2 separate regions of the Homo sapiens genome follow, and region 1 is linked to region 2. A link means that fine-mapping ties the variant in region 2 to the expression of a gene that starts in the linked region. Tissue or cell type: activated CD8 T cells. Region 2 holds a variant in brackets; the other region holds the start of a gene. All regions are shown on one strand. Distances are from middle to middle.

Evidence for each region. PIP is the estimated chance that this variant, and not a neighbour inherited with it, causes the effect.
Region 1: it holds the start of ZFPM1, and the variant in region 2 is fine-mapped to the expression of ZFPM1 in activated CD8 T cells (Schmiedel 2018, PIP 0.95).

What each region holds. Positions count from the first base shown.
Region 1 is chr16:88,451,660-88,455,762 of GRCh38, forward strand. ZFPM1 (zinc finger protein, FOG family member 1) reads left to right here and starts at 1,621. Exons shown (of 10, transcript NM_153813.3): 1 at 1,621-2,019. The coding sequence starts at 1,980. RefSeq lists silencers at 1,346-1,645, 1,656-1,745, 2,206-2,335, 2,556-2,625, 3,566-4,103.
Region 2 is chr16:88,308,921-88,313,023 of GRCh38, forward strand. It overlaps a transcript of ZNF469 not described here. Among named protein-coding and RNA genes, the nearest start is that of ZNF469, 72 kb to the right of the region's middle. RefSeq lists an enhancer at 1-392. The variant AT/A (reference allele first, on the strand shown) is at 1,643.

The sequences.
Region 1 (4,103 bases), 140 kb after region 2:
GGTGGGGGCGGGAGGGTGGGGGGGAGGTCCTAGGTTGAGTGAACCAATCAGACATGGGCCCCACCCCCTCCAGAGAGCAGCTGTGGGAAGGCTGTGCCCACTGGACCCTGGCAGAGAGCAGGAAGGGCTGGAGGACCCGTATGCCCCTGGGCAGCTCTCTTGGCCTCCTGGTCTCAGTGTTCCTGTCTGTCCATGGCAGTGGGGAGGGACGGCGCATATCCAGTGTTGTACCCCTGCCTCTCCTACCCACCCGCCACTCTCCTGTACCAGGCTCTGAGGGTAAGCCCCCACTTCTCCCCTTCCTTGGAGCCAGGGAATAGGTCACAGAAGTTGGCACGAGATGGGGTCTTAGGAGCTCCCAGCAGGCTGGCGGGTGGTGTGACAGTCCTGCTGTGCGATGATCTCATCATCAGGTGGGAGGGGTCCTTCCTGTCTGCCCCTGGGCCCACTGACGCCCGTTTCTTATGAGTACGGGGGATGGGGGAGCAGGTAGCAAGTGTAGACCGAGAACATTAAAAGGAGATGATACAACTCAGCTGGGAGTGGGGGACAGCCCCCCAATGCGTGACCTTGAGCAAGTCCCCGAGCCTCCGTGAAGTGGGGCTCTTGAACACACCCCAGAGGGCAACAGTTCTCCATTTCCAGGCCTGAGCTGACAGCACCGCGCCCACAAACCTCGCTGACCTCTGACTGCTCCGAGAGGGGGCTGTGGCCCGGGCGCTGTGGGCAACTCCTTCGTGGGTCTCCTGCGGGGCGCCCTGGAGAGGCTCGGTGAGGAAAGAGGCCCCAAGTGGCAACGCCCAGGGCTGCCGGCTCCCGCGCCCCCTCCTCGATTTCCAGCCTGGTCTGAGCTCACAGGGGAAGACCCGAGATCCTGCTCTCAGTTGGCGGACCCCACCGCAGTCTGGGACGGAAGCCCCCTCCCTGGCCCGAATCCGCTCCACACCCCAAGTCTGGCCCAAGAGAAACGTGGGCGTCAAGGCCTCGGGCTTCCTGAGCCGGTTGTCACTGCCCCCACCGCGCACGTGGAGCGTGCGGCAGAGCCCAGGGGTCTAGGGAGGGACCAAGGGCTGGGGGCGGAGTTACAGTGCGGGGGCGGAGCCTCGGCGTCTCAGGACCCAACCAGGTCGGGTCAGGTTTGGAGGCGGAGCTGGCGCCGAGAGGCGGGGCGCAGGATGCGGTGCCGCGGGGCAGCAGAACAGAACCGAATAGGTCTCAGACTCCCAGCGCGGCCTGGGGACATGACCTCCGGGCCAAAGAGGAGTGGGGGAGGCTAGAGGTCTCCCCGGGGCGCGGGCGGGGCCGAACCAGGAAGGGGCGGGGCATCGAGCGGGGCGGGGACAGTGCCTTGAAGGCCCAGACGGACAGGGGCGGGGCCGCAGCGCTGGGGTCGGAGCCAGCGCCGTAAAGAGCGAGGCGGGCGGGGGCGCGGTCGCGGCTCTGGGGGCGGAGCCAGAGCAACGAAGAGCCGGGCTGGCGGGGGCGTGGCCGCGGCGCTGGGGGCGGAGCCGGAGAGGTGCAGGGCCCGGCAGGAGGCACGGGGCGGGGCCGGAGCGCCGGGGGCGGGGCGGGAGGTGCGGCGGCCGACGACGCTCAGGCCCGGCCCCGCCCCGTGCCTCCAGCCCGCCAGGAGCGCCCTCGCAGTGGCCGCCTGCTCCGCCGCTCGCCGCCCGCGGGTTCCATTGAGAAAAGCCGAGCGGCCGCGGCGGCGGCGGCGAGTGCGCGGGAGCGGAGGAGCCGGCACCCGCCCGTCGGGCAGTCCGCGCGCCCGCAACGCAGGACCGTGGCCTCTCGGGCCTCCGCGGCAGCTCCAGCGGCTCCGGGGCTGGGCGCGCGGGCTGGGGGCGCGGGCCGGGGCGGCCGCGGAGACCGGGGGCCGGGGGCATGAGCGGCCCCGCGGCCCCGCCGCGCCCCCGCCGCCCGCCGCCGCCCGCCCGGGGCTAGAGGCGGCCGCCGGGAGGGCGCGCGGCGCCGGAGACATGTCCAGGCGGAAACAGAGCAACCCCCGGCAGATCAAGCGTGAGTCAAACTTTGCCCGCGGTCCCCTCCGCGCGCCCGACCCCCGCCGGAGCCCAGCCGCCAGCGCCGCCCCCGCCCGTCCCCGCTCTGCCCTGGGCGCCGGCGACCTTCACCCCGCGCCGCGCCCCCCGCGCTGTGCCAAGCGCGCCGTAATCTAATCTCCGCCGGCGGCCTGGGCCCCCGCGTCTCGGCTTGGGCACCGGGGGGTTCAGCCCAGGAGGGGGCCGCCCGGAGGCCGGGAGGAGGGTGTTTGGGGGCGCGGCCCGGGCAGCTCGGCCCCTCGCGGCCTGCCCCTCCCCCGCATCTGCGAGATGGTGCGGCGATAGGGCGGCCCCGATCTGGGCTCAGATAAAGTTTAAAATATTACATTCTGCAAGTCCCGTCCTGATAAGATCGTTCTGTCGGGACGGGCTGAAATTGTGATCTTATCTCGCGCGGTTGACTCTCCCAGGCTTTGTATCTAGAAGCGAAGAGAGAGACCTGGGAGGCAGAGGGGACACCCGGGGCCGCGGAGATGCCTGGCCAAGTGGCAGGCACCGGCCCGCGCCCACCCCCACCGGTGCCGTCGCAGAGCCGCAGGACAGGGGAGGGGGTAGCGCGCAGCTGCCGCAGCCTAGGCACTTGGCTCCAGCCCCCCAGACACCCCCACCCCGTGCCCTAGCGCTGAAGTCCTGAACCCAGGCCCCGCCAGCCTGGTGACACCTCCTGGACCCTGCAAGTGTCCCAGCCAAGGCGGCATGGGCAACAAATGGTGCCCTCGGATGCCCGCGGGCACCCCCTGGCATCCCAATGGGCTGCTCTGAGTCAGAGAAGGGCCTCCCAGGACGCAGCCCCGGGCCGGGGTCGCCCCTGCACGCCACTAAGTTTCTCGCTGGTCCGGCTCCCTGCCCGGTCAGAGGCTGCTGCCCCGCCGCCACATTGCCAGTGCCCCCGCGATGAGAACTAAGCTGTCGGGGCCACTGTCTGGCCTGGGCCTCTGGGCTGTGCCAGGAGGGAGCAAGAGCACAGGAAGCTACCCTCCCCACCCTATGCCAATAATAACTTTGCGCCTCACAGTTAGGGCCCAGACGCAGGTCTTCCTCCCCGGGGCGCCTCCCCGGAGCCTGACGGGCAGGTCGTCTGAGCCCTGCCAGGAGGCCACGACGGAAACCCGCCCGCTGCCCAGCCGTAGGCGCCCGGGCACTACCTCCTTTGTCCACACGACCACTGCCACCAGGACCCCTTGTGCGGGGCCTGTGGGAGCTTCCCTACTCAGGAGGTCTCCCGAGGCGGGGGTCACAGGCATGAACCGGTTCCCGTAACCCAACTCCCTCAGCGCAAACGGGACCTGTTTTCCGAAAGTCGCCTTCTATCGTGTCAACTCAAGTATTAAAAGCCACCCACAGGTCCCGATCCGCGCTTGTGCTCTGGTTTCTTTTTCCTTCCTTCCCTGAGCGCCTATGTTCGGTTCTGGGGTGTGTGTGTGTGTGTGTGTGTGTGTGTGTGTGTGTGTGTGGTGTTTCACTGTGATGAGAAATGCAGATAGCTCGGACAGGGAGATCGCAGGTTGGAAACCGATCTCCAGCGCTGATAAGGCCGCCAGCGCCAGCGAGAGCCCGTAGCCCAGCCCAGCGGGGCGGGCAGAGCGCGCGCACTTTGGGAACTGGGACCGCGGCGGGTGCACGGTGAGCCACCGCGGCCCATCCTCGTTGCGGCCCGGGACCGGGGCAGAGAAAGGGCCCGGACGAGGAAGGCAGGGCCGCGGACCCTCCCTGTCGCTCGCGGCCCGGGGCGCCTCCTCCCCATGGCAGATCTCAGCACGTTAAGATGCGAAGGCTGATTGTCACCAAGCGGCGGCGCCCGCCCGCCCGCCCTCTTGCCAGCGCCTGTGCCTGCCCGCTGCCCTGGCCTCACCTGCGGCCGGGCCGCGAGTGCAGAGCGGAGGGGGCCGAGCGCTTCGGGCCGCCCACCCCCCACCCGCGCCCCCATCAAAGCCCTGGCGCAGCTGCCCGCGCCTCTGTGCGCCTTTTGTTCCGTGCGGAGATAGATGTGCCGCGCTGATAAGGCGCGCAACCGATGGTGGCTGAGATAGGCGCTTCCATTTA
Region 2 (4,103 bases):
TGACACCCAGGCAATCTGTTCCTGGGTGGTGGTGACTTTGGCTTGAGGTCCCCCCAGTGGCCCTGCTGAGCCACCGTGCAAAGGGCTCCCAACCTTCCTTCCTTTCCTCTCCCCTGCCCAGGGCCCAGACCCACGTCCCGACTGGACCTTCTCCCAACCTCCCAGGCTCCTGCCCCGGTTTTCTCACAGATTTTCCCCTAGTGAGTCTCTCATACCTGATCCTGCCCTGTGCGTGTTGCCCAGAGGCCTAAGGCTGATGCTCACCTCTCAGGGGAAGGAGGAAGGCCTCATAAGTGTCACAGCCTGGAGGAGTGGGCTCCGTGGTGGTGTGCTGGCAATTTGAGGAGGGTGGGACAGCGGTGACCTGTGGTGGCCAGCCCTACAGGGACACCTCCGAGCTGGGCCAGGAGGAGCACAGTGTTCAGGACACCTGACGGGGGGAGTGCCCTCTGAGGTCCCCTGTCAGTGTTCAGGACACCTGGTGGGGGGAGTGCCCTCTGAGGTCCCCTCTCGGTGTTCAGGACACCTGACGCGGGGAGTACCCTCTGAGGTCCCCTCTCGGTGTTCAGGACACCTGACGGGGGGAGTGCCCTCTGAGGTCCCGTCTCGGTGTTCAGGACACCTGATGGGGGGAGTACCCTCTGAGGTCCCCTCTCGGTGTTCAGGACAACTGGCGGGGGTAGTGCCCTCTGAGGTCCCCTGTCAGTGTTCAGGACACCTGATGGGGGGAGTGCCCTTTGAGGTGCCCTGTCAGTGTTCAGGACATCTGACGGGGGGAGTGCCCTCTGAGGTGCCCTCTCAGTGTTCAGGACACCTGGCGGGGGGGTGCCCTCTGAGGTGCCCTCTCGGTGCCAGGGAGTGTGGTTCACTCTCCTCAAATGCTGGCCTCCAAGCCCCTCTGTCCTGTCCCTGGGATCAAAATAACAAAGCATCAGGGCCACTCTGTTAAGGCAGAAACAACCCACGTGGCAGGAGTCAGCTGTAACCTGAGGGCCTGCCCCTGCCAGAGGCCAGATCCCTCCACTGCCCAGGGTAGCCTGGCTTTGAAGAGTCAGGTCCATGACCCACCCGTGTTGTAAAACCCTTCCTAGAATCAGAAGAGCAATAACAGGTGTGCAATTCCTGTGCACTGAGTGGCCTGAGAGGGAGGGCGCTATGGGGAGCAGGGGTGCCCTCCAGTGGTGCAGTGGGGGCAGGGAGAAGCCAATGGGGAGGGAAGGGGTCATCAGGTGGGACAGCCTGGCATGAGAGCAAATCTCTGCAGAACCCTCAGATTACACGGAGGACATCAGCTTCAGGCACCTGCTGACTTCCTCACCACCCCCAAACTCTGAGGCAGGAGAGGTTGGGGGAGGGAAGCAGAATTTCTTTGGGGAGCTGGGGGGTGGGAGCTGTTGGCTAAGACACAAGGCAGTGCCTCCCACTGCTTAAATTTTAGGGTGGCCATGAAAGGCAGAAATAAGGGTGTGCCTGGGGCTCTGGTCACATCTCACAAGTCACACATCTAACACAGCCCTGCGTGCTGCCCCTTCTTCCCGGTGGAACCATTTGCACACAAAAGTGATAGCTGCACTTCCCCCTTTGTTTTTCTGTAGCCTGTGTCTTGGATCTTGTTCCTTGACAGTACCTTGTCCTTCATTTT[AT/A]TTTTTTTTTTTTATTAATTTTATTTATTTACTTTCTGAGACAGAGTCTCGCTCTGTTGCCCAGGCTGGAGTGCAGCAGCGCGATCTCGGCTCACTGCAACCTCCACCTCCTGGGTTCAAGCGATTCTCCTGCCTCAACCTCCTGAGTAGGGATTACAGGTGTGCGCCACCATGCCCAACTAATCTTAGTATTTTTAGTAGAGACCGGGTTTCACCATTTTGGCCAGGCTGCTGCTTTTTATTTTTAATAGGCTTTTTAAAAGAGCAGTTTTAGATTTACAGAAAAATCGAGAAGATGGCATAGAGTTTCTACTTGCCCTGCGCCCAACTGTCCACATCTCACCCTCTCACGGTGCCTTTGTTGTCACTGATGAACCCAACACTGATCCATCCTCATTCACCGTGCACCCTCACAGCCTCCTCCTGCACCAGGACCACATCCGGATCCCACCCAGGATTTGCTCGTCACGCCTCCCTCGGCTCCTCTCCAACTCCTTGTTTTTGAGGATCTTGACAGTTTTGAGGACCGCCTGGGCATTTTGTGGATCATCCCTCAATTGGGATTGTCTAGTGTTTTTCTCATGGTTAGACTACAGCGATGAATCACTGGGAGGAAGACCCTGGGGGCGAAGTGCCCATCTCACCACATCCCCTCAGGGGTCTACATCATCAACAGGATGCATCGCAGGGGACATTGACCTTGGCCACCTGGCTGAGGCCTCACTCTTTTTAAAGCTGAAACTGCAGGTCCCCAGGCTTTTATCCAAACCCTGGAGCTCGACAGGCTTTTTATTTCAGAGCTCAGGATTTTAGAAATGTAATGTACATTTACACAGCACTCCCATGGGATCCAGGGAAATAACCCATAAGAAAGCCCATGACTGTTTCTGCACTGAAACATGAATATTTACCCTGATTGGAGAAGCAGAGAAAATAAACAGTCTCACTGCAAATTTCCAAGCAAGTTCCAGAAGAACTTTTGTGGGGACTTCAGAACAGCTAGTAAGGGATGGTGGCCTGCCCTCCGTCAGTGGTTCATTCTATAACTTACTGTGCTGGGCTCCAACTGAGGGGTGTCTGGTGGTTTCAGGGCTGTCCCTGCAGCGTTGCAGAGACAGTCCTAGTGTGGAAGTCTCTGTGAGTACCTGCCAGGTAGATTTCTGGGAGGCCACACTTGGCCCCAGGTTTTTGTGTCTTAAACTTGGATTGAGTTGGCCAAGTCGTTCGCCAACAAGGACATATTGATTTGCATTTTCGCAATGATATAGCCTGGGGCTTGTTCCTGAAGCTGCGTGCTTTCAAATGATTGATTGTGGAACACCTGATGGTGAAATCTCATTGGCTGCTTGTATTAGTCCATTCTCACACTGCTGATGAAGACATACCCAAGACTGGGTAATTTATAAAGGAAAGAAGTTTAATGAACTCACAGTTCCACATGGCTGTGGAGGCCTCACATTCATGGCAGAAGACAAAGGAAGAGCAAAGGCACATCTTACATGGCAGCTGGCAAAGAGAGAATGAAAACCAAGTGAAAGGGGTTTCCCAGTATAAACCCATCAGATCTCATGAGACTTCTTCAGTACCATGAGAACAGTATGGGGGAAACCACCCCCATGATTCAATTATCTCCCACCTGGTCCCTCCCACAACACAAGGGAATTATGGGAACTACAGTTCAAGATGAGATTTGGGTGGGGACACAGCCAAAGCCTATCAGTACGGTAGTTCTAATTCCCAGGAGGCTCAGCCTGTTCTCATGTGGTTATAGGTTGCTGGGATTTACCTTCTTGCACCAGCTTCTCAGGCCATTTGCCCATTTGTCTCTTGACGGGTTGGTCTGTAACTTACTCTTTTTGTTGTTTCTTTAATCCCCTGTTTCTGATATATAAGTTGCCAAATTTCTCCCCAATTCTTCACTTGCTCGTGTGCCTGTGTTTTGTTCATTTGTGTTGGCTTTAAGACCCTTATTTTATGTGGTCACATATACCCACCTCCTTTTAAGCTTCCTGTGTTTTGTTTCATTCTTCAAAAGGCCTTGCGCATGCTGAAATTATTTTGTTAGAAACATCTTTCATGATTTCTTCTAGTGCTTTTGTTTTTTTGCCCTTAAGTCTTTGATTTGAGGGAGAGACGCCATTTTTCCTTTGTCTAGGGGGTGAGCCAGCTGTGCCAAGACCATTTGAAATGCTGCCTTTACAACGCAGTCAATGCGTCTGCCTTGTTCCACTGATGGGTCCACCCATCTTCATACCAGCCCCAAACCGCATTTTACTACAGTAGCTTTGCAAGCCATGCTGGTGCGCCATGGACTCCACGCCTCCATGCCCTCACGAATTATTCTAGGATGGCCTGGATGTTTATTTTTCCATATGAACTTTAGACTCAACTTACTTAGTTCCAGAAATAATTGTTGGTATAGGAAAAAGGAGCTGATTGACTCTGCAGCCTGATCTAGGG